Linked DNA regions of Homo sapiens: region 2 is linked to region 1. Evidence: fine-mapped expression QTL. A gene starts in region 1. The other region holds a variant in brackets. All regions are shown on one strand. Distances are between the middles of the regions.

Region 1 (12,017 bases):
ACTGTAGTGGTGCACGCCTGTAATCGCAGCTACTCAGAAGGCTGAGGCAGGAGAATTGCTTGCATCCAGGAGGTGGAGGTTGCAGTGAGCTGAGATCACGCCATTGCACTCCAGCCTAGGCGACAGAGTGAGTCTCTGTATCTGCTGTTCTGTTGTAGGAGAAGGAGATGTCAGGTATAAGGGTTAGCAGGGGGTGGCTTGGTTGCGATCAGGAGAGAGGTAGTGCTCATTCTCCATGGGATCCTTGTGGTGCATGTCCCTGGCTTTTTTTTTTTTTTTGAGATGGAGTCTCACTCTGTCACCCAGGCTGGAGTGCAGAGGCACAATACTCGGCTTACTCGGCTCTGCCTCCTGGGTTCATGCATTTCTCCTGCCTCAGCCTCCTGAGTAGCTGGGATTACAGGTGTGCACCACCACGCCTGGTATTTTTAGTAGAGATGGGGTTTCTCCACGTTGGCCAGGCTGGTCTCAAACTCCTGACCTCAAGTGCCGCGGTTTGCCACAGTTACCACGGGACTAAACGAAGGGGTACGAACGTAGAAATGAAAACTTAAAACAAAAGAAACTGTTTTAAAGGAAGGGGCCAGGGGAAGAAGAAGAGGGCTCCCTGCTTCTAGTGAGCAAGGGCAGCCGCCTTGAACCTCTACCGCCCTTCATACTCATTCGGTAGAAAGAGCAGGGTGGAGGAGGTAACAATTGGTCAGCTGCTTGATTGATCACAGGTTCACCTTATCTCATTACAAGAAACACTTGTGCTGGGTCGTGACTGCCCTCAGCATTCCTTCTGGGTGGCAGACGCAGTTTGTCAGTTTGCCAACACCCTGCTTTCATGAAAACAGTTTGCTGTTTACTCATATAGCCTCCAGTGGTGCACTGAGTTGATCACGACCCTCACTCTTTCGGCCTGCAACACTCAAGTGATCCACCTGCCTCGGCTGCCCAAAGTGTTGGGATTACAGGCATGAGCCACCACGCCCGGCCTGCTCCTGGCTTTTGGCTGAAAGTTGAGACTTAGAAGTTGGGAGGAGACCTGGAGCACCGTGGCTAGTTCTAGGCCCTACACTCTTCAGAACAGCAGAGCTGTAGCTGTCTGGTAGTGAGCTCTCTGTTGCTGGGAGTATTCAGAGGCTGGATGGCTGGCTGTTAAGGGATTTCTGCTTGGGTGGGAATTTGGGTCCCTCTAAGACAGATAACCTATGATTTCTGAGATAAATGGGACAATACTTTCAATGAGGGTTACATGTTAACGCTGGGTCAGTCTTGAGTACAAAATGGATTCAGAGACCTGAGTTGTCATGTTCAATCTGATTTTCCTAGCCCTTTGAGGAACCGTTTGAGGTGTGGCACGATACAGCAAGTCAGCTGCCAAAGAGGGGCTTAGCCACAGGAAGTGCGTGCCCAGAACGGTAAAGGGGCTGTGGCCTTTCTTATCATCTCCACTCCCTGTCCCCCCCATCACCTGCTCTTCGTGCTTTGTGATAATTCAGTGAGCTCATACTCATGACCTGTGTCCTCCAGCATCTCCCGTGTCCCTCACAGCAGTTCTATGAGGCTGGCTGCCCTGTTTGACAACTGAGGCCCGCATCTTCCCCGGAATCACCGACGTGTGGCTCTGAGCCCTGTCCCAGGGATTTTCTCCATCAGAGAAGAGGAGCACTTTGAGCTTTGAGAGGAGCAGCCCTCTGCAAGTGAAGTGGAAAAAAAGGAAGCAGGCGAGGAGGCCCATCCAGACCCTCCCCCAAGACCCTTGCTGAAATGGCTGGGATGCGGCGTGCAGAAGCTCTCCTTTCCTTCACAGCCCCTGGCTTTCCAAGAGTCCCTGCCCACCCAGATGCCCGCTGGCAGATGCAGCCTCATCTCAAGGACACTGCTTGCTGGATAAATCCCTCACCACCCTAGAGACAGCCCACGGTCCTGAGACAAGGATGCGGGCCAGGCTTGTTGCACGTAAGCGCCTCCCGCAGAAACCAGTGAGGCCGGAGTTCCAGAGGAAATGATGTAGGGACAGAGGCAGAGGGCCTCCAGGAGGCACCAGCCCCAGAGTCTTCCCTAGAATCAGACTTTAAGCACAAGCAGGGAGGGAAAGCACTTGAGCAGTGCCCGTCCCTGCATACCTGGCCTCTGCTGGAACCCATGCAGGGACAGGACACTTCTTTATCAGCAATCCTGTTCCTCTCCTGGGCAGCTTCAACCTGAACATCCTCCTTCACCTTGAGCTAAAATGGGTTTCTTGTCACCCTTGCCCATCAAACCTGGCCTTGCCCTCAGGAACCACACAGGACAAGCCTAATACTTCCTTCTTGTGGCAACACTTTAGCAATTGAGACCTGGCTGTCAGGTCCTCCAAATAAACATTTGTGACTGTGATGTTGACTTGCCGCTTCTGGGGACCTCTTCTCATTTGATCGGAGAAAGTTTTTCAGGGTTAAACCTACTTCTTTCCCCCAAGAAACTCTTCTTGTCAGGCTCACGCCTATAATCCTGGCACTTTGGGAGGCCAAGGCAGGAGGATTGTTTGAGACCAGCCTGGGCAACGTAGGTAGACTATGTTGCTACAAAAAGAAAAAGAAAAAATGGCCAGGTGTAGTAGTCCCAGCTGCTTGGAGGCTGAGGTAGGAGGTTTGCTTGAGCCCAGGAGGTCGAGGCTGCAGTGAGCTATGATTGTGCCACTGCACTCTAGCCTGGGAGACAGAATGAGGCCCTGTCTCAAAAAAAAAAAAAAAAAAAAAAAGATGATGAAACTCCTCACGTATTTCTCCCCGGAGCATGTGCTCCCAGGCTCAAATCCACAGCAGCCTCGTTACACACACGTCATCCCCTGGCCCCGAGATATTGCACCGCCTTCCCCTTTCTAGCTCTGAACCCCCACATGAAGCAGCCAGACGTAGGAAAACCCAGATTCATAAAGCGCTGATATGGGTGGTCCTTTACCAAAGGATTTTCTGCTTTACAAAGTAATTCACCAAATGATTTCCCTAGAGTATGGGCAGAGATTTGCAAACTACAGCTTGGAACCAAGCTGCCTTTTTTTTATAATAAAGTTTTATCAGGATGCATCCACATCCATTCATCTCTGTGGTGCCAGCTGCTCTAGCTACACAGGCAGAGTGGAAGAGTTGCAGATGGCCAACAAAACCTAAACTGTTTACCGCCTGGCCCCTTATAGAAGCAGCTGGCTGACGCTGGCTCCAGGGCATCAGAAATGGGACCATTGGAAAGGAGTAGCCGGGCTACATGGTTTTTCTTCTGCCCCACGTCTTGTTCTCAAACATGCTTCCTCCCCAGTCATCTGAGGAATGTCAGTCTGAGACAGTCAGGAGCAGGTGTGCCTAGGGATGCATGGTTTCTGAAAATGGGGTGGGGTCTTTTAGGCTGAGGGCTCTGGCAGCTTCTGTCTGAAGGCTGAGCTGAGCTGAGCAGAGCTGGGCATGGTGGCTCACGCCTGTAGTCCCGGCTACTCAGGAGGCCAAGGTGGGAGAATCACTTGAGCCTGGGAAGTTCAGAGGAGCCTGGGCAACACAGTGAGACCTCATCTTTATTTTTTGAAATTTTTTGTTTTTATTATTTTTTTAATTTTTAGGAGCAGAGGGTTAATAGGCAAAAGAAAGAGAGAGAGGAAAACAGCTCTCTCCAGTGAGAGAGAGGGTACTTCTGAAAGGAAAACGCCACCGGCAGCAGATGCACTGGATTTTATAGTCAGGCTTGAGGAGGTGGTGTCTGATTTACATAGGGCTCACAGATTGGTTCAGTCAGGTATGATGTTTACATAGCGCTGGGGTGTGGGGAAGGCTGACCTCCCCACTCTAATCTTATTATGCAAATGAACTTTCCCCTTGGCCAGCACCATCTTGTCTGCTCCTTACTGTGCACGTGGCTGGCAGAGAAGGGAAGATGGAGCCGCCATTTTGAACATGATTGGCACAACTGCCTGCATCTATGTCTGCAGCTCGATTTTACACGCTGCTCTTTGTTAGAAAGGAAAATGATTTGGGGCTGCTTTTCAGTAAAAGGAAAACCTTACTGAGGACTTCTGTATCCTCACTATCTAAGTAATTTCCTCTTAACTCCTGTATCATTCCCCACTCTGGAGTGGTAACCCTAACTGCTCTTCGGGGTTGTTTGATGATGACTCTTTCTGGCTACTTCATACTTAAAAGGGGTGTTGTGTGGGGAACAGAAGCTAAGGGCTCCTCCTGGGGTCGAGCTAAGGGTCCTCGGAAAAAAGGCATGTCCGTGCATGGTTCTGTCTGCAGCACCATTTAGAGTTTGATTACTGTCAGCCATTCTGATGGGTTGTAACACTGGTTTGCCTCCACCAGATGTTGAGATAGTTTCCAGATTCCAGAGAAACCAGGCAGAGAGAAACAAACATGCTCCAAATTTTCTTCACAGGAGTATACCTTATTCAATTATTAAAGGCCATAAATAGTTCACAATAAGTTTTCTTGACTCGTTTTGATGAGTGTTGTACCTTGGGATCCCGGATGAGGTCCCCAACATGAAGCAGCTACATTGTTTGGGGTAAATACCTGGGGTTCATTGTCTCACGCCAAGAAAATTTAGGACACAGACACACATGAGGAGTTTAGGAGCAGAGGTTTAACAGGCAAAAGAAAGAGAAAGAAAAACAGCTCCTTAGTGAGAGAGAGGGGACTTCCAAGAGGAAAAGTCCCAAGACCTTGTCTTTGAAAAAGCAGTAGCTCATGCCTGTAATCGTAGTGCTTTGGGAGGTCGAGACAGGAAGATTGCTTGAGCCCAGGAGTTGGAGACCAGCCCGAGTGACATAGGAAGACCATGTTTGCAAAAAACAAAAAAATTAGCCAGATGTGGTGCACACCTGTATTCCCAGCCCCTCGGAGGTTGAGGTGAGAGGGTGGCTTGAGCCCAGGAGTTCAAGGCTGCAGTGAGCTATGATCGTGTCACTACTCCAGCCAGGGTGACAGAGACCCTGTCTCTTAAAAAAGATTAAAAAAAAAAAAAAAGTCAAGTGCCTACCAGATGCCTAATTCTTTTTTTTTTTTTTTTTTTTTTTGAGACAGAGTCTCGCTCTGTTGCCCAGGCTAGAGTCAGTGGTGCAATCTTGGCTCATGGCAACCTTCGCCTCCTGGGATCAAGTGATTCTCCTGCCTCAGCCTCCTGAGGAGCTGGGATTATAGGCACCCGCCACCACACCCAGTAATTTTTGTATTTTTAGTGGAGATGGGGTTTCACCATGTTGGCCAGGCTGGTCTCAATCTCCTGACCTCAGGTGATCCACCCGCCTCGGCCTCCCAAAGTGCTGGGATTACAGGTGTGAGCCACTGTGCCTGGCCCTGATTTAGTTCCTTTCCTCCAAGGCTGGCTTCTACCTCTTCCCCACACAGTGACACTGTACCCCGACCAGACAAGCAAGTGTCTGCTTTCCCTTGGCTTCTTACAACTGGCTCTCTGGGCCATCTACAAAAAATTTTAAAAAATTAGTACAGCATGGTGGCACTACTGTCCTAGCTACTTGGGAGGCTGAGTTGGGAGGATTGATTGAGCCTGGGAGGTCGAGTGCAGTGAGTGATGATTGTGCCACTGCAGTCCAGCCTGGGTGACAGAGCGAGATCCTCTATCAAAAACAAATAAACAAAAAAGCACTTTGCAGAGGTGACTGAATGTTCTGGAACCCCTGGGCCATTGGAAATGGATATCTGTTGCTCCATCCTCCAGTTTACACCGTAGCCTCAGCTTGTGTCTCAGTGTGCCCCTCTCCCTCTGGTCTGTGCTCTCTCTCTTCCAGAGGCTGGGAAGGTTGTTCCAGGGCTGCAGCCTTGGACCTCAGAGGTCACATGTTGCGGGTTTGCCGTAGCTGACCACTCTCTAGCATGTGGATCAGTGGCTGTTAAATAGGATTTCTTTTGCGTGGCCTTACAACTTCCTCCTTCCAGTGCAGGCGTGTCAAGGTCCTTAACCTGCCGAGACTTCAGGTCAAGTTATTGCAAGTTCTGGGAAGACTCAGCTTCCCAGCTCCACCGCCTGAGCCCAAGGGATGCTCCATTTTATGCCTGTCACCCACGCCCTGTGACCCATGTCATGTGATCCCAGGGCTGCAGGGGTTCGGGGGAAGAGAATCCAGCCACGGCCCTGCCTTCTGGGGCCTGGCAGCTGGGACAGCAGTGGCGCAGCCTGAGCCTCTGCACAGCCTTCTGGGGTCCGGGCTTCTTCCCCATCACACCCTCCTAGTTGCCCTGGTGACTGTGTGACCCCTCTCCCCCCTCCACCGCCTGCTGCCACGGCCGGCCGTATAAATAGAGGCGAGGAGCAGCTGGGCTCTCTTGGCAGTCACCATGAGGGCGCTGGTCCTGCTCGGCTGCCTCCTGGCCTCGCTCCTGTTCTCAGGACAAGCAGGTAGGGCCCCTCCCAGCATGACCCAGCCCAGACTGGTCCCCCACGCTTCCTCCAAGGTTTTCTGTCTACCATGGGTTGGGTAGGGGGTCGGGGCTGATGGCAAACCCTGGCTCTTGGCTGGTGTCTTCTTACCCTTCTCTTTTCCCCGGGCCTGGGGCCTCAGAGAAAGAGCTGGGTGCTGGAGAATAGCAGCACAGTTGCGGGGCCCTCAGGAAGGCCAGAGGAAGTGGGAACGGCAAACAGAGCTGAGCTGTGAGCCAGGGTCAGAGAGGAGTCTGGCCAGTAGATGTGGGAAAGAGGGCCCTCAAAGTCGAGACGGGGGAGCCTCTGAGACGGACAAAATAGCACAGTCTGGGAGCTGGAGGTCGTTGAGGTGACCCTCCCACCTGGTGGGATATAAGGCGGAGGCCCCACTCGGGTAAGAGAACTGGGTTTGCGTGGACAGAAGGGGATACAGTGGGCAAAGGTGGGGACCGTTTTGGGAGCAGTGAGATAGAATTGGAATTGGTTTGGGATAAGATCGGAAATAGAGTTGGCGGTTGGGCTGGAAACAGCATTGGATGCAATTCAGAAGAGGAACGGGGCCCGTTCTGGAGTAGAGCCTCTGCTCGGGGTGGGGGCTTCCATCAGAAAAGGGGCTTGGCTCTGTGTGCTGAGGCTTCCCTTTGACATCTCAGCACTTTGGGTAGCAGAGGTGGTGGCTTGGGTTGCAGCATGGGGGTTATCTATAGGCTATGGAGGAGATGCCAGATTGTTTTGCCACCTCTCTTGTTCCTAAGGTTCCTGAGGCCAGGTTCCCCGAGGGAATGCTTTTAGGGAGGTGCTCCGGGGATCCCCCTAGGATCCGGACTGCCCACCGAGTCTTTTCATGACTCGGCAGTCTTCCCCCAAGCTGGGCTCTGAGCCTAGGTCCGTACCTGGGACTGGAGAGGCCCAGAGTCCAGCCTCTCAGGTCTTTGAGGTTGAATAGGGGGTTGCAGGGGCACAGTCCCTGCAGGGAGAGCAGGCAGTGGGTGGGAACAAAAGCTATTTCTCGGGGACTCAAGATGTAAGGTGGGGGGCTCCAGCCACTGCATGTGCTGCTGGGCCCTGCCCTTGTCTGTCCTTGAGTTAATTTGGGCTCTGCAGGGCTGCAGCGGCTTGAGTGCTGAGTATTCCAGGCGGCTGTCAGGCGGCTAAGTATGGAAACAGCCGCGTAATTGGATCCGGAGCCCCAAGCCGCTGCCACCCTCTCCCTTCGTGGCCGCTCCTGTGCTGCCCCCCAGCCCCAGCTGCTGGGCTGCTACACACTGGGCCCCAGGAATTTTTGGCCTTTTAGGGACATCCTTTATCTTTCCTCCCACCGAGGGAACTGGTCATCTGGAATGTTCTGCAGGCCTCGCTGGGGGCTCTTGTCGTGGGGAAAGGACGCAGGCAGGTGCTTGTGCAAAGGTCCCTTCTCTCTGCTGTCTTTCCTTCCTGGGTCCCACAGCGTGCGTCTGCCCCTGGCCCAACCTCCGGCGTAAAGCTTCCCTCTGTCCCTGCTCCTGCTCAGCACTTGGGCTGTGGGTTTCATCCACTGTGGTGGATTTTATCAGGACTCTGCCCCACTGTGGACTGTATACCCCAGAATAGGCCTCCTCCTGCATCCACCGGCAGGTTCTAACCCACAAGGTGGCTTCCTCACGCCCCCATCATGACAGTCCTTCCTACTGGGTGATTTCCCCTTCAGAATTGTGCCACCCCGGTAAATACCACCCCACCCAAAGGTCACATCTTGGCTCCTGACCTCTTTCCCTCATCTCTCCGCTGTGTGCTAACTTCCCTCCCTATCATGCTTGCTCCTTGGCTGGGTGGCGGCAGATATTCTCGCTCACCACTCCCATCTGCTTCCTAGGCCAGGGACCCCACAGAGCTTCTCCTCCGGCTTCTCCTCCTTGTTGCTCGTGTGCAGCTCTGGCTGGGGTGGTGGGCTCTGCAGCCCTCCTTCTCGCCTCCCTGTGAGGAGACAAGCGCCCCTCTGTTACCAACCACCCGTCGCCCGTGCCCATGCCAGGACGGGGAAGGAGCAGCCAGGTGGGGCCTTACCCGGTTTCCACCTCCCGACCTGCTGCTGCACTCAGGCCTTTGTACCACCCACTGGGCCCTCCTCTTTGGGAGTCCTGGCTTGGGGCTGTTCCTCCTTAAAGCAGTGGGAAACGCCCCTAGCAATGATTTGATCGGTCTCCCCACCATCCAGGGAAGGGAAGGAAACCCAGAGAAACAGGAAAACTTTTCCGAGGTCAGACAGCGCGTCAGTGACAGGCACACCCGGGCCAGGGTCCTCTCCTTTCCTCAGCCCGTCTCTCTGTGACAGACCCTGCCTGCACTCCCAAGCCCCTCTCTCCCTGTACGGTGAGTGTGAAAGGAGGAGAAAGGGTGCAGTGGATAAGACCGTCCTGGGGGAGTTTCCCTAGTTTGCAGGGCGAAGAGCTATGCTTTTGGTTTCCCTGGAGAGCGAAGTCTGCTGAGAAAGCATTTCATTTCTTCGGGTTTAAGCCATTGGTGTTTACTGCTAAAGGCAGAATTTGGGACCTCTTTGCTTCCTGTTGTCCCTCTTGTTGCTTGATACGGAGATTGGGGATCTGGGGATTCCTGTCCATCTCATCCTTCCTCCACCTCCAGCCCTAGCTTCAGACTTGCCCATCTGCCCTGGCCCCACCCGGCCACCCCAATGGCAAGGGGCTGGTGCATGCTGGGGCTGCCCCTCTGTGAGTGCCCACAGCTCAGTGCCCGCCATGTGAGACAAGGGTGCAGTGACGGTCAGGAAGCTGTTTCCCCGCCCCTTTCTCTCCCACCCCTGGCTGGTTATTTCTGGAAAGAGGCCAGCACTCCAGTTTCCTCATCAGGGCAGCCTAGCTGTGGCAGGGCTGCTGAGAAAATGTAGCAAGCTCAGGGGTCTTGGGGAGAGAACAGACCCCAGAAGCCTTTTCCCCACAGCTGGTTCCCTGACTCCTCATTTGGTGCAGCCGGGCAAGCCTGTAGGGGACATCTGGTCCCACAGTGAGCCTGGAATGCACTAGACTGGGTCTTGCTAATGAACACATCCCTCAAGAAGGTAACACGGTGGTCGGACACAGTGGCTCACACCTGTAATCCCAGCGCTTTGGGAACCCAAGGTGGGAGGATCGCTTGAAGCTAAGAATTTGAGACCAGTCTGGACAACATAGTGAGACCCTGTCTCTAAAAAAAAAAAAAAATAGCTCGGTGTAGGGGTGCATGCCTGTGGTCCCAGCTACTTGAGAGGCCGAGGGGGGAGGATCACATGAACCTGGGTGGTCAGGCTGCAGTGAGTTGTGATTGCATCACTGACTCCAGCCTGGGTGACAGAGCGAGACCTTGTCTCAAGGAAAAAAAAAAAAAAAGTGGCACCGGGCATGGTGGCCTGTGGAACTGCTGTTTAGGAACTGCTGGTTTTTTCCTACATCCAGGTATTACAGTGAAGGTCAAACAGTGAGTTCATGGCAGGCCAGAGCTGGAATTCAGTCCTTTCCACTCCTTGGCCAGTGCTTTTACCCGCTTATCCCCCAGAGGGAGGTCCAGATGAGGCCGGTAGCATCTAGCTGGCCGTTTGATGCCTGCTTGGGTGTAGTGGGCTGGGGAGAGTCAGCCTATGGACTCAGGAGGGGGACAGCTGTTTCCGTTCTCTGACCTGGCCTGCAGGCTAAGGACAGAGCTAGGCCCTGTGCATCCTGGCTGGAATGAGGCAGGTGGCTGGGGGAGTGGGGAGCAGGGAGGGCCATGGCTGTGGGATGGAGCGCCTGGGCTTACTTAGCTCTCTCTCCTGGGCACATGCCCTGCTCCAAACCCAAATCCAGGCCTCATCGCAGCATAAGTCCTTACCTGTAAACATCGCTCGTATGTGCAACCCTGTCATTCAAACACCTCAACGTGTTCCATCATTCGTGAACCCATCCCTCGTTTGCTGCATCCCTGCTGTTTTTGAAGTATGGTACTAGGGGAATTGAGACAGGCATTTTGTCCTCAGTGCTTATAGTCCAGTAGGGGAGAGGAGGCGTCTTCTCCCTTGCACGTAGCTGAATCTAGTCAAATGGGACACACATCAGTGTCACTGGGGAGGCACAGGAAAAGCAAGGTGGGGCTGAAGGCAGGGAGGAGACCATCCTGAGCTGAGTGGATCGGATCAGAAAAGGTTTTACGGATGAGGGAATATTTGAGCTGGGCCTTGAAGAAAGCAGGATTCAGAACAGAAAGATGGCAGGAAGGGAATTCTGAGTTGAGGGAACAAGATGAGCAAACTCACGGTGCCAGAGCAACGGGGCTCTGGTGAGACCCAGGGAAGGGGAGCATTGTTCTGTCTTGCATGAAGGCGGGCAGATGGAAGTGGGGTGGCGGGACGTGTTCGGAAGGCAGGGGTGGGGCTGAAGTGTGAAGGGCCTTGTTAGGCTAAGCAGGGCTTTGCTCTGTGGGCAGCGGGTCACTACCAAGGGCTCAGGGAAGATCCGTCTGGCAGTTGTTTGTAGGAAGAGTAGGGAGGGGGAGACTGATTAGTCAGCCATGCCAGAGAGGTAGGTGAGGGAGTGTGGACCTGGGCGAGGGGTTGGGAGTGGAGAGAAGGGGTGGACCCAGCTGACAGCTGGTGTAGAATCCCTGGCCTTCCCAGCTTGGGAGCCAGGCCAGGGGAGGGGGCCCTTACAGGTTCCATTGAGGTCACTGGGAGAATGATCTTGCCAGAAAAATAGACTGGGAACATAAGAGAGAGGAACAGATTTTGAGTCCAGTTTGGGCTTGGATGAAGTGGCTCACACCTGTAATCCCAGCACTTTGGGAGGCGGAGGCAGAGGCAGGAGGATGGCCTGAGCCTAGGAGTTTGAGACCAGCCTGGACAACATAGAAAATAAAACAAAAAATAGAAAAAATGAACTGGGCATGATGGCGGGTACCTGTAGTCCCAGCTACTTGGGAGGTTGAGGCAGGAGGATCGCTTGAGCTTGGTAGGCTGAGGCTGCAGTGAGCTGTGATGGCACTATTGTACCCCAACCTCGGCAACTGAGTGAGACCTTGTCTCAAAAAAAAAAAAAAGTTCACGGCTGGGTGCAGTGGCTTACACCTGTAATTCCAGCACTTTGGGAGGCTGAGGGCAGATCACGAGGTCAGGAGTTCGAGACCAGCCTGACTAATAGGGTGAAACCCCATCTCTACTAAAAATACAAAAAATTAGCCGGGCGTAGTGGCATGCGCCTGTAATCCCAGCTACTCGGGAGGCTGAGGCAGGAGAATTGCTTGTACCCGGGAGGCAGAGGTTGCAGTGAGCTGAGATCATGCCACTGCACTCCAGTCTGGGCACCAGAGCAAGACTCTGTCTCAAAAAAAAAAAGTTCAGTTTGGGTCATTATGAAGATTGGTTACTCGTGGGGCATCTGGAAGGAGGTGGCAGGGGTTAGGCAGGACTGGAGCTTAGGAGGGAAGTCAGGTCAGGGCATTTAGGAGTGAGATTCATTTACGTAAAGATGAGAGGGAGGCTCTGAGGTCACCCATGGAGCTGTACCAGGGAGAGACAAAGATTCAAGGACCAGTCCTTGATCAACGCTAAGTTTGAGGAGTAGGAAGAGGAAGAAGATAAATGAATTTCAGAAAGATAGGAAGGGACCCAAGAAGAGACAGTG
Region 2 (12,017 bases), 50 kb after region 1:
TGAGCCCAGTAATTGTAGTGGGGCACAATTGCACCACTGCATTTCAGCCTGGGCAACGGAGACCCTGATTCTAAACAAAAGAGGGCAGAAAGAGAGAGAGAGACACTGGCCTCAGAGTCCAGGATTAGGCTGTATTGGGAATTTGGGGAGCCCCAGGCTGGAGGAGAGGAGAGCTGCAGAGGCTGGAGACAGGAAGGGTCTGAGTCCAGACCACCCAAGATTATACAAGCTGCTCCACATCCATCCTCCATTCTCAACCCAGATTCTCTCCATGTGGAAGCTCCGTCCTCCTTTCTCTATGGGCTTTTCTCCTCCAGATTTAACCAGGAGACCTCACCCAGAGTGAGTTCGGAGTCAGGGTTTGTTGAATTCACTGAGATCCTTCTTGTGGTGGGGGCAGACGTGCCAAGGATCTGGGCAAGGCCCAAAAGTGACTTCTGTGTCTTTTTACTGGGTGATCACACTTACGTAGCAAGAGAAGCGCCACTGGGGGCTACACACGTCTGATTCATGGAGAATTCCACAACTCAGTTGGATGGACGGTGAGATGCTTTGGAGTACGGTGCCATACCCCTTGTGTGAACTTTTGTTAGTTTTATTCCATTTCTACTTCCTGTTGCCCACAGATGGAGAGATTACCTCCAAGCCCATGGTACTGTTCCTGGGACCGTGGAGTGTTGGTAAATCTACCATGATAAACTACCTCCTTGGGCTGGAAAATACTCGCTATCAGCTCTATACAGGTAATCAATATTCTTGTGTGATTGTTGGGATTTGAATGTTGTATGTAAAAGCACCATGAAAATTTAAATCACTGGCCGGACATTATGACTCATGCCTGTAATCCCAGCACATTGGGAGGCCAAGGCAGTGGATCACTTGAGGCCGTCAGTTTGAGACCAGCCTGGCCAACATGGCAAAAACCCATCTCTACTAAAAAAAAAATACAAAAATTAGCTAAGCATGGTGACACGTTCCTGTAATCCCAGCTACTCAGGAACTTGAGACATGAGAATTGCTTGAACCTAGAAGGCAGAGATTGTAGTGAGCTGAGATTGTGCCACTGCACTCCAGCCTGGGTGACAGAGCGAGACTCCGTCTCAAAAAAAAAAAAAAAAAAGGAAAGAAAAGTTATGCCACATGCACGTGTTAAAATACAAAATTTGAAAAAGGCTGTGCATGGTGGCTTTATGCCTGTAATCCCAGCACTTTGGGAGGCTGAGGCAGGAGGATGACCTGAGGTCAGGAGTTCGAGACCAGCCTGGCCAACATGGTGAAACCCCGTCTCTACTAAAAATACAAAAAATTAGCTGGGTGTGATGGCGGGTGCCTGTAGTCCCAGCTACTTGGGAGGCTGAGGCAGCGGAATTGCTTGAACCCAGGAGGCAGAGGTTGCAGTGAGCCAAAATCGCGCCACTGCACTCCAGCCTGGGCGACAGAGTGAGACTCTGTCTCACAAAAAAAAAAAAAAAAAAAAAAAAGAAAATTTGGAAAAAACAGAAAACAAAAAAAGACATCTGCACCAATGTCCATAGCAGCATTATTCACAATAGCCAAAACATGGAAACCAGTCAAATGTTCATCAATGGATGAAAGGATCAAGAAAATGTGGTCTGTTCATACATAAATTATTATTCAGCCTTAAAAAGGAATGAAATTCTGATATCTGCTACATGGATGAACCATGAAGACATTATGCTAAAAGAAAGAAGACAGACACAAGAGGACAAATACTGTCTGATTTCACTTATATGACAGTAGGCGGCTGGGCGCGGTGGCTCACGCCTGTAATCCCAGCACTTTGGGAGGCCGAGGTGGGTTGATCACAAGGTCAGGACTTCAAGACCAGCCTGGCCAAGATGGTGAAACCTTGTCTCTACTAAAAATACAAAAATTAGCTGGGCATGGTGCTGGGCACCTGTAATCCCAGCTACTTGGGAGGCTGAGGCAGGAGAATCGCTTGAACCCGGGGGCGGAGGTTGCAGTGAGCTGAGATCATGCCACTGCACTCCAGCCTGGGCGATAGAGTGAGACTCTGCTCCAAAAAGGAAAAAAAAAAAAAAAAAAAAAGAAGGCAAAATCAGAGAGAGAGACGCCAGAGTGCTTGTAACCAGGGACTGGGGGAAGAGGAAATGGGGAATGACTGTTTAATGGATACAGAGTTTTCAGTTGGGAAGATAAAAACATTCTGGACCTGGATGGTGGCGATGGTTGCACAACAGGGTGAATGTGCTTAATGCCACTGAACTGCATGCTTTAAAATGATTAAAATGGTAAATTTAGGCCAGGAGCAATGGCCCACACCTGTAATCCCAGCACTTCGGGAGGCCAAGGTGGGCAGATCATTAAGGTCAGAAGTTCGAGACCAGCCTGGCCAACACGGTGAAACTCTGTCTCTACTAAAAATACAAAAATTAGCCAGGCATGGTGGCGAGTGCCTGTAATCTCAGCTACTCGGGAGGCTGAGGTGGGAGAATCGCTTGAACCTGGGAGATGGAGGCTGCAGTGAGCTGAGATTGCACCACTGCTTTCCAGCCTGGGTGACAGAGCAAGACTCCATCTCAAAAAGAAAAAAAAGGTAAATTTTATGTTATGTATGTTTTACCACAATTAAAAGAAAGCCCCAATAGCTTGGCAAACATATCCAATTCTGTTGCAAAAGTCTCCCTGTGACACCAGGCATATACACATGCTTCTCAGTAGATCTGTTTCACAGAGATCATGTATTCCTTCACCTCTCACCCCGTGTGCCCAGGCGCTGAACCCACCACCTCTGAGTTCACGGTCCTCATGCATGGGCCTAAGCTGAAAACCATCGAGGGCATCGTCATGGCTGCTGACAGCGCCCGTTCCTTCTCACCCCTTGAGAAGTTTGGCCAGAATTTCCTAGAGAAGCTGATTGGCATTGAGGTTCCCCACAAACTTCTGGAGAGGGTCACTTTTGTGGATACACCAGGCATCATCGAGAACCGCAAGCAGCAAGAAAGAGGTAATTTAGCCCTCATTTCTGAACAGTGTAAGCTCTGTTTCAAAAAATTATTTTTGGCCAGGCATGATGGCTCATGCCTGTGATCCCAACTCTTTGGGAGACCAAGACAGGAGGATCCCTTGAGGCCGGAGGTTCAAGACCAGCCTGAGCAACATAGTGAAACCTCATCTCTACAAAAAAATTTAAACAATAGCCAGGCATGTTCGCATGTGCCTATGGTCCTAGCTACCCAGGAGGCTGAGGTGGGAAGATTGCTTGAGCTGAGGAAGTTGAGGCTGCAATGAGCCGTAATCGTGCCACTCTACTCCAGCCTGGGCAAGAGTGAGACCCTAACTTATATAAATAAATGAATAAATAAGGCTGGGCACAGTGGCTCACACCTGTAATCCCAGCACTCTGGGAGGCCAAGGCAGGTGGATCACTTAAGCCCAGGTGTTCTAGACCAGCTTGGACAACATGGCAAAACCCCGCCTCTACAAAAAATATAAAAATTAGGTTGGCATGGTGGCACATGACTGTAGTCCCAGCTACTCGGGAGGCTGAGTTGGGAGGATTGCTTGAGCCCAGGAGGTCAAGGCTGCAGTGAGCTGTGGTCATGCTACTGCACTCCAGCCTTAGTGACACAGCAAGACTCTGTCTCAGAAAAAAAAAAAGGAAGAAAAGAAAACTACTTTTGACAGTGGGTGGTAGGCAGGCAGGGAGAGGAAGTGTGCCCAGTGTTGCCTAAGACCAGGAGAGGCATTCTTAACTTCCACCCTTCTTGTCGTTACTGCGATGCCATCTGGGTTTTGGAGTGCCTGGTGCTCCTACCTCCCCAAGGACTGATTTGGTTTGGAGACGGCAATATTTTCCAAAGTGGGGGCCTAGTCCTCTCTGCAAGCAGCTCTGAGAGGTTCAAGCTGGGGCTCAGTTGTCTTTGGGAGGCCCTGTGTGTCCTGTGTAGCCAAGGGCCTGGACTAATTGGATCCCAGTACCAGTATGTTTGACTTCTGGCTAAATTGGGTTTGGTGCTCCTGGGCCTGCTGTAGGTTGAACCTGACCTTCAACTCCTCCTATTCCCGGTTTCTGCTTTTCCAGGGTTGCTTCCCCATAAGCCTTTAGCAGGCTTCTTCAAAGCCCTACTTGCCCTCAGGTAGCAGGGGAATGCTAATGTCTGACTTCACTTACATGAGAGTAGGCAAAATGAGAAAGACAGAAACCAGAGTGGTTTTAACCAGGGGCTGGGGGGAAGGGGAGATGGGCAGTTACTGTTAATGGGTACAGAATTTTCAATTTGGGAAGATGAATAAGTTCCAGAGAGGGATGGCCATGATGGTTGTGCAACAGTGTGAATGTATTTAATGAACAAGGCTGACAACCAGGCCACAAGACTAGAAGCCAGATCCACCAGGCATGTGGCTATGGAGTAGGCCACTGAGTCCTGCCATGAGGCAAGGCTGTCTGCAGTGAGTCCTGAACAGGGCAGTGCAGGAATGTGTGAGCAGACGGTGGATCTCAGTTTATGGTTACAACTCCAATTGTGGTTATAAATAGATCTTGTAGTAATGATATTAGCAGTAATATTAGAAGCAATTAATAATATTAGTAGTAATATTAGTAATAATATTATAGTATATTTAATTATATTATTATGGTATAATGACATTAGTAGTATTATTAGTAATGTTAATAATGTTAATAATTATAATAGTAAATTGTACCCCTACTACACGTTGGATAATTTTATACATTATTGTAAAAAAAAAAAGATTTCAATGTTTTTAAGACAGGTAGTCCTCATCTCCTCAGTTTTCTTATTTGCAAAGAAAACTAGGAAATAAGAAGCTAATGGAATTAAAATGTATTCTGCACCAGCTGTATGACTGGAATTTTAGGTGCTGTCCTATATTTACAGCAACATGGTAATCTTTATATCAGTTCAGATGTTGATATTGTTCTTCTTGTCATTTTGGAGCTAAAAAGGTAGAGCTTAGAGGCATTTAATATACAGCTCGCCAGGGGCAAAGCTCAAATTCTAGTCCAGGTCTCAATGCTAAGCCCACATTCCTTCCCCGTAAATAATGCATTCATTCTTTCATGTTCTTCTAATTCCTCATTTCTCTCCCTCAGCATCTTTGCCATTGCCCCAGATCCTTTTAGACAATAGGACAATCTCCATTTTGAACAGGTATTTAGCTTTCTTGGAAACTTGGATTTCACAGTAGATTAAAACAATGATCAGGTGGGGCATGGTGGCTCACGCCTATTACCCCAGCACTTTGGGAGGCTGAGGTGGGAGGATTCTTAAACCCGGGAGGTTGAGGCTGCAGTGAGCTATAATCATGCCACTGCACTCCAGCCTGGGTGACAGAGTGAGACCCTGTCTCAAAAAACAAACCAACAAGAAAAACAAGGATCAGGCTGTTCTTGGTTGAAGATTGGCAAGGGACAGGAGATATGCAATTGATTTTTTAATAGTCTGTAGAAACCCAGAAAATCCGTAGCGCTGTTCCTTCTTTCAACCCCCAGAATGGTTTAGTTCTGAAAGGAGGTGCGCGGGCTTTGAGGGAGGCCTACTCAGTTTGACTTCTCACTTCTGTCTCCCAAAGGCTACCCCTTCAACGACGTGTGCCAGTGGTTCATCGACAGAGCTGACCTCATCTTTGTCGTCTTTGACCCAACAAAGCTGGATGTGGGTCTAGAGCTGGAGATGCTCTTCCGCCAGTTGAAGGGGCGTGAATCCCAGATAAGGATCATCCTGAACAAGGCTGACAATCTGGCCACCCAAATGCTCATGCGGGTTTACGGGGCCCTCTTCTGGAGCTTGGCCCCTCTCATCAATGTCACAGAGCCCCCAAGGGTTTACGTCAGCTCCTTCTGGCCACAAGAGTATAAGCCGGACACCCATCAGGAACTGTTCCTCCAAGAAGAGATCTCCCTCCTAGAAGACCTGAATCAGGTGATCGAGAACAGACTGGAGAACAAGATTGCCTTCATCCGCCAGCACGCCATCCGGGTCCGCATCCACGCCCTCCTGGTTGACCGCTACCTGCAGACTTACAAGGACAAAATGACCTTCTTCAGTGATGGAGAACTGGTCTTTAAGGACATTGTGGAAGATCCCGATAAATTCTACATCTTCAAGACCATCCTGGCAAAGACCAATGTCAGCAAATTTGACCTTCCCAACCGCGAGGCCTATAAGGACTTCTTCGGCATCAATCCCATTTCCAGTTTCAAACTGCTCTCCCAGCAGTGCTCCTACATGGGAGGTTGCTTTCTGGAGAAGATTGAGCGGGCCATCACTCAGGAGCTTCCGGGCCTCCTGGGTAGCCTCGGGCTCGGGAAGAATCCAGGTGCTCTCAACTGTGACAAAACAGGGTGTAGCGAAACACCAAAAAATCGCTACAGGAAGCACTAGGTGGTGGAGCGGTCCTTGGGTTCCTGTTGGTGAATCAGCTTGTGTCCTAACTGTCTGAGAGGTCCTGGTTTATTAACCCTTTGAGCCACACTGGCAGGAATTATTACACAGTGGAGAGTTGGGAG[T/A]TCATTGAGGCCAGGGGTCGGGGCAGGTGTGTGGGTCTAGGGAGGAGAGTGGAAACTGTGAATTCCTGTGTGCTTGTCTTGTTGCTTCAATGAGGAGGCCTGATTGAGGCAAGTCAGCCTCCACCTGCTTTTCCTGGGTCCTGTCTTGGAAGGACAGAGAGCAGCTAAATTCTAGTGTATCTTAAATCAGTGAGGGTCAAATAAGCTAAAAGCAGCTGAAATTCCTTTGTTCCCTGTGAGCTGGGAAAACAGCGAAGGCCTGAGTCGTAGAGATTGTCAGGTCCATTTTGGCTTCTTTCCACACCCACAGTCTCGCGTTTGTTCCCCAGCCCTCGGCTGCCTCTTAACTTTGGGTTGACTTTCAACAGTGAATAGTCTCTTGGGTCTGAATATACCTGGGTTTGTTTTTGTGTTTTTGAGACGGAGTCTCGCTCTGTCGGCCAGGTTGGAGTGCAGTGGTGCAATCTCAGCTCACTGCAACCTCCCCCTCCTGGGTTCAAGCGATTCTCCTGCCTCAGCCTCCTGAGTAGCTGAGATTATAGGCCTACCACCATGCCCAGCCAATTTTTGTATTTTTAGTAGAAACGGGACTTCACCATGTTGCCCAGGCTGGCCTCGAACTCCTGACCTCAAGTGATCCACCCGCCTCGGCCTCCCAAAGTGCTGGGATTACAGGCATGAGCTGCCGCACCCGGCCTCCACCTGGGTTTTGAGCCAATCCCCCGGACTTGCTCCTGGTTTCCTCAAGGGGTGGGGCAGTGGTTTAGGACACTCGACAACTAAGAACAGGAGTTCCCAGGAAGGACAAGGATCTGCCTCCCCCACTGCCACTTCTCTGATGTGTTCCTCAAAGCTGGCTCGAGGGCTCGATCCCTTCATCGGACCCAGGAGGGGACTGGTTGGTGTATCCAGGTAATTTACTCTTGGAAGTGACTGTAGTGAAGGTCGTGGAAGGGCTCAGAGGGTTAATTGGTTTGCAGTGCGTCTTTGTCTATTGCATGTCTTGGAAAACTCAGATCCCAAAGGCGCTGGGTTTCAGAGAGGACAGTGGAGACCTTGCTCCTTTTCCTTAGGCCGCCAGTCTCTCAAATTTCAGAGGAGGCTGTTTCCACAACTCCCCTGTGGAAACACTTGGCAGCGGAGTTGCTCCTTTGCAGTTTCCACACCATGGCTTTTCCTTTCCTTTCTTCTCCATTCCCTGATGCATCAACACTTACTTGGAGCAATTTCCTAGGAGTCAGAACCAGCACCAGCCACTCGGTGTCGGTGGCCACCAAGGCTTAACATTGACCTTCCCGCCTGACCTTGATGCAGATGTCCACTGAACACACCGCAGGAAAGCCAGGGCCTTCAATACCAATAAGTGTGAATATGTGTGTATGTTGTCCAAGAGAGATTAGGGAGATCACATAGACTCTAGGGAGTAGAGAACTTGTAACAGTCTTGCAAGGCTAGCATGCACGGCTCCACAGCAGGTGGTGGGGAGCAGAGGGGCAGGACCTGCAGGGAAGAAGCAGCCTTTGGATGGTGAAATGTGCATGGTGCACAGTCTGTGCATGCCCAGGAGACCCAGCCCGGGCTGCCTCGAGGGGCTCCTTTGTACACAGCCAGCCGCTTCTCTTGGGAACAAGCTGTCCTGGGGGCCTTACCCACGAGGCAGGAGTCAGGATGCACCAGCTCAGCACCAGGAAGTCATCCTGGACCCAGGACAGTGGAAAGGCAGGCAGAGGGAGAGGCACTCTGAGGTCAGGCAGGGTAAGCCAGTTGGCAGTCAGGTTAGGTCTATGAGGAGAACCTCGAGTTAGGAATTCCCGGTTCTCAGAATTGTTATCACTCTGGTGCATGCTGTCACAGGGGCCGTTGCGTTTGGCTTTGTGGAGGGCCTGGACCCTTCCACAAGAACACCCGAGGTTCCAGGGCACTCAGGACAATGTTTCCAAGGAACGAGTCGACCAGGAAAGAACAGTGAGTTCTGCAAGGGGCATCCACGGAGCCTGTGATAGGGGCTGATGAGATGGAATCTGTCCTGGACTTTTCTTCTCATTAACCACCCTCCGCAAACCCCAGAACCCCTCGCCTCATCTCTGTACTGTCTGCCCTCTTGGGGGATGGGCCCTCCCACTTTCCCCTGCCTGCTCCTCCATGCTGTGAGCTGCTTTGGCAGATCTGTTTTTCTGTGTAGTCAGGGGAAAAACAAAAAAAGATGCACAACTGTGTGGGCATTGTCATAGCTGTTGGTGTCACCACTGCTTTGGGGGAAATGGCTGGGATGAGGCTAATACATTCATGCAATATTTATATTTTCAGGGGGCTGCGTTATCAGCATGCTCTCCCTGCCTTGGGCTTTTCTTTCCGTCATGTTTTCCTTTTCGTGTTCCTTCTCTGATTTCTCTTGTCTCTGCTGCTCACAGGCCTGCCCATCAGTCAGTACAGATACTCAGTGTCTGGTTTCTGGCCAGCTCCGTGGAGGGGGCTTTAAGCAGAATTCTGACTCTTTGGGGTGGGGGATTAGGAACTGGGGGAAACTTAATGATCCAGAGATTCCCCCAAGAGGAGTGTCTGGAAGGATCTGTGCCTGGACAGTGGCAGAACCTTTCCAGTGTTCTTTTGGTTCTGATTTCATCAGTCTCAATAAAGTTCCGATCTCTCTTTAACACCGCGTGCTTTCTCATGGTCTCCAGCTAGGTTACTCTCTTCATCCTCCTTTTATCTGGTAGAGTTAACTCATGTGTAAGTTCCTTGGGGAGAGACTGGAAATTAAGAAATTGCCCACCCTTGTGTTAGCTGGATGCCCCAGGACCTTTTTTGGGACTGAGGCTGAGTTGCTCTCTCAGCCGCCCAGGAAGGCGTGGTGTCCTCTGAAACTTAAAGAACTGCTCTCTCCTCAGCACCTCAATGCCTCATTCCCCTGGGCATCCACGCAGCTGCCTTAGATAACTGAGGGCTCCAGTGGAGGAGGGCACAAAGGTTTCCTGAATGGTAAGGCTGCCACCTCCCCTTGGCTTCACCAGAAAGTGTTCTCCTCCTCCACGAAGTGTGGACGTGAGCCTCCCGCTTGGACCTGTCTTTAGAGAAACCTGAACGCGTCCTTGACTCCCTGAGCCCTTTCTATCACATTTTCCTGTTTCTAGTATCCTCTTCAGAGCAGAGGTCGTTTAATTTTTATGTTTTACTTCTGGGGTCTTCGAAGGAGTTTCACATCTTGCTTGAGAACAGGTTTTTTGTTGTTTTCTTTTCTTTTTCTTTTTTTTTTTTTTTGAGACGGAGTCTCGCTCTGTCGCCCAGGCTGGAGTGCAGTGGCGCAATCTCGGCTCACTACAAGCTCCGCCCCCTAGGTTCACGCCACTCTCCTGCCTTAGCCTTTCGAGTAGCTGGGACTACAGGCGCCCGCCACCACGCCCGGCTAATTTTTTGTATTTTTAGTAGAGACGGGGTTTCACTGCGTTAGCCAGGATGGTCTCGATCTCCTGACCTCGTGATCTGCCCATCTTGGCCTCCCAAAGTGCTGGGATTACAGGCATGAGTCACTGCACCCGGCTGGTTTTCTGTTGTTTTCGATTTTTTTTTTTTTTTTTTTCTGAGATGGAGTCTCGCATTGTTGCCCAGGCTAGAGTGCAGTGGCGCCATCTCAGCTCACTGCAACCTCCGCCTCCCGGGTTCAAGCGATTCTCCTGCCTCAGCCTCCTGAGTAGCTGGGACTACAGGCACATAACACCATGCTTGGCTCATTTTTGTATTTTTGGTAGAGATAGGGTTTCACCATGTTGGCCAGGCTGATCTTGTACTCCTCACCTCAAGTGATCCGCCTGCCTCGGCCTCCCAAAGTGCTGGGATTACAGGCTTGAGCCACCACATCTACCCATTTTTTTTTTTTGAGACGGAGTCTCGCTCTGGCACCCAGGCTGGAGTGTAGTAGCGCGATCATAGTTCATTGCAGCCTTAACCTCCTGGGCTCAAGCAATCCTCCTGCTTCAGCCTTCTGAGTAGCTGGGACTACAAGCACATGCCACCATGTCTGACTAATTGAAAAAAACATTTTTTTTTTTTTGTAGGGATGAGGTTTCATTATGTTGCCCAGGCTGGTCTCAAACTCCTGGCCTTATTCCATCCTCCTGCCTCAGCCTCCCAAAGTGTTGGGATTAGAGATGTGAGCCATCTTGCAGGTAGACAGCGGGTTTTGAAAGGGAAAAAACTGGGCCCTGGGGAGAAAGGGAGAGTCTGCAGTCCTTGGTCTTTGAGCAACTGAGCAACATGACCCAACTAAGGCCACTCCTGTTCACCCACCCAACCCTGCGTCCCTCTTCCACCCTTTCCCGGGAGAAATCCAGAGCTCTTGCCTGGAAGAAGGAGGACTGTTTTAAAGATAAATGTTAAGTAATATGCCAGAATCTGCCTCAAAATTGTACTGTTTCACAAGCCTCACCATCTTCACATTGTCTGCCATTAAGATGATAGAGAAACAGAAACAGAAAACGGAGAAAGCACAATCCGGGACCAGGATAAACATAGATAAAGTGAGGGGCATGAATGGAGTATTTTTAAGGGTAAGTGGATGTATCATCTGAATCCATGGGGGTTACACATGGTTATATGCAAAAGGTGTGTGCAAATACATATGTAAAGTCCATGAGTGTGGGGAAACAGGTGGCCAGGTACTTAGCACAGTGCCTGACACACAGGAGCTCATCACCCGTGTGCCATCAGAGTGAATAAGTGGGTTTGGGGGAGTAAAGAAGGTGTCTGTGCGGTTTTTTGAGACAGGGTCTCACTCTGTCACCCAGGCTGCACCCAGGCTGGGTGACGTGATGCAACCACAGCTCACTGCAGCCTTGAATTACTGGCCTCTAACGATCCTCCTTCCTCAGCTCAGCTTCCCAAGTAGCTGGAACTATAGGTGCACATCACCACACCCAGCTAATTAAAAAAGGTTTTTTTTTTGGCTGGGTGCGGTGGCTCATGCCTGCAATCCTAGCACTTTGGGAGGCCGAGGTGGGCAGATCACTTGAGATCATGAGTTCAAGACCAGCCTGGTCAACATGGTGAAACCCAGTCTCTACTAAAAATACAGAAATTAGCCAGGCATTGCGGAGGGTGCCTGTCATCCCAGCTACTTGGGAGGCCGAGGTAGGAGAATTGCTTGAACCCAGGAGGCAGAGGTTGCAGTGAGCTGAGATGGCACCACTACACTCCAGGCTGAGTGTTTTTTTTTTTAGAGAGATGGGATCTTGTCATCTTGCCCCGGCTAGTCTCAAACCCCTGGGCTCAAGTGATCCTCTCACCTCAGATCATTTTTCTTTAGAAGAAAGTAAAGGCAATAAAAAAGCATTAGAAAAACAAACTGGCTGGGCTAGGTGGCTCACACCTGTAATCCTAACACTTTAGGAAGCCAAGGTGGGAAGGTCATTTGAGGACAGGAGTTCAAGACTGGCCTGGGAAACATAGTGAGACCTCCTCTCTACAACAACAACAACAAAATTAGCTGGGTGTGGTGGCATGTGCCTGT

The links. PIP is the estimated chance that this variant, and not a neighbour inherited with it, causes the effect.
Region 2: its variant is the best candidate, but not a certain one, in a credible set for the expression of SRL in atrial appendage (GTEx, PIP 0.85).

Annotation. Positions count from the first base shown.
Region 1 is chr16:4,236,362-4,248,378 of GRCh38, reverse strand. It overlaps SRL (sarcalumenin), which reads left to right and starts at 6,299. Exons shown (of 6, transcript NM_001098814.2): 1 at 6,299-6,372. The coding sequence starts at 6,312. It overlaps LINC01569 (long intergenic non-protein coding RNA 1569), which reads left to right. Exons shown (of 3, transcript NR_039999.1): 3 at 1,318-2,554.
Region 2 is chr16:4,186,525-4,198,541 of GRCh38, reverse strand. SRL (sarcalumenin) reads left to right here. Exons shown (of 6, transcript NM_001098814.2): 4 at 627-743; 5 at 2,756-2,989; 6 at 5,578-9,168. The coding sequence ends at 6,389. Among named protein-coding and RNA genes, the nearest start is that of SRL, 50 kb to the left of the region's middle. The variant T/A (reference allele first, on the strand shown) is at 6,515.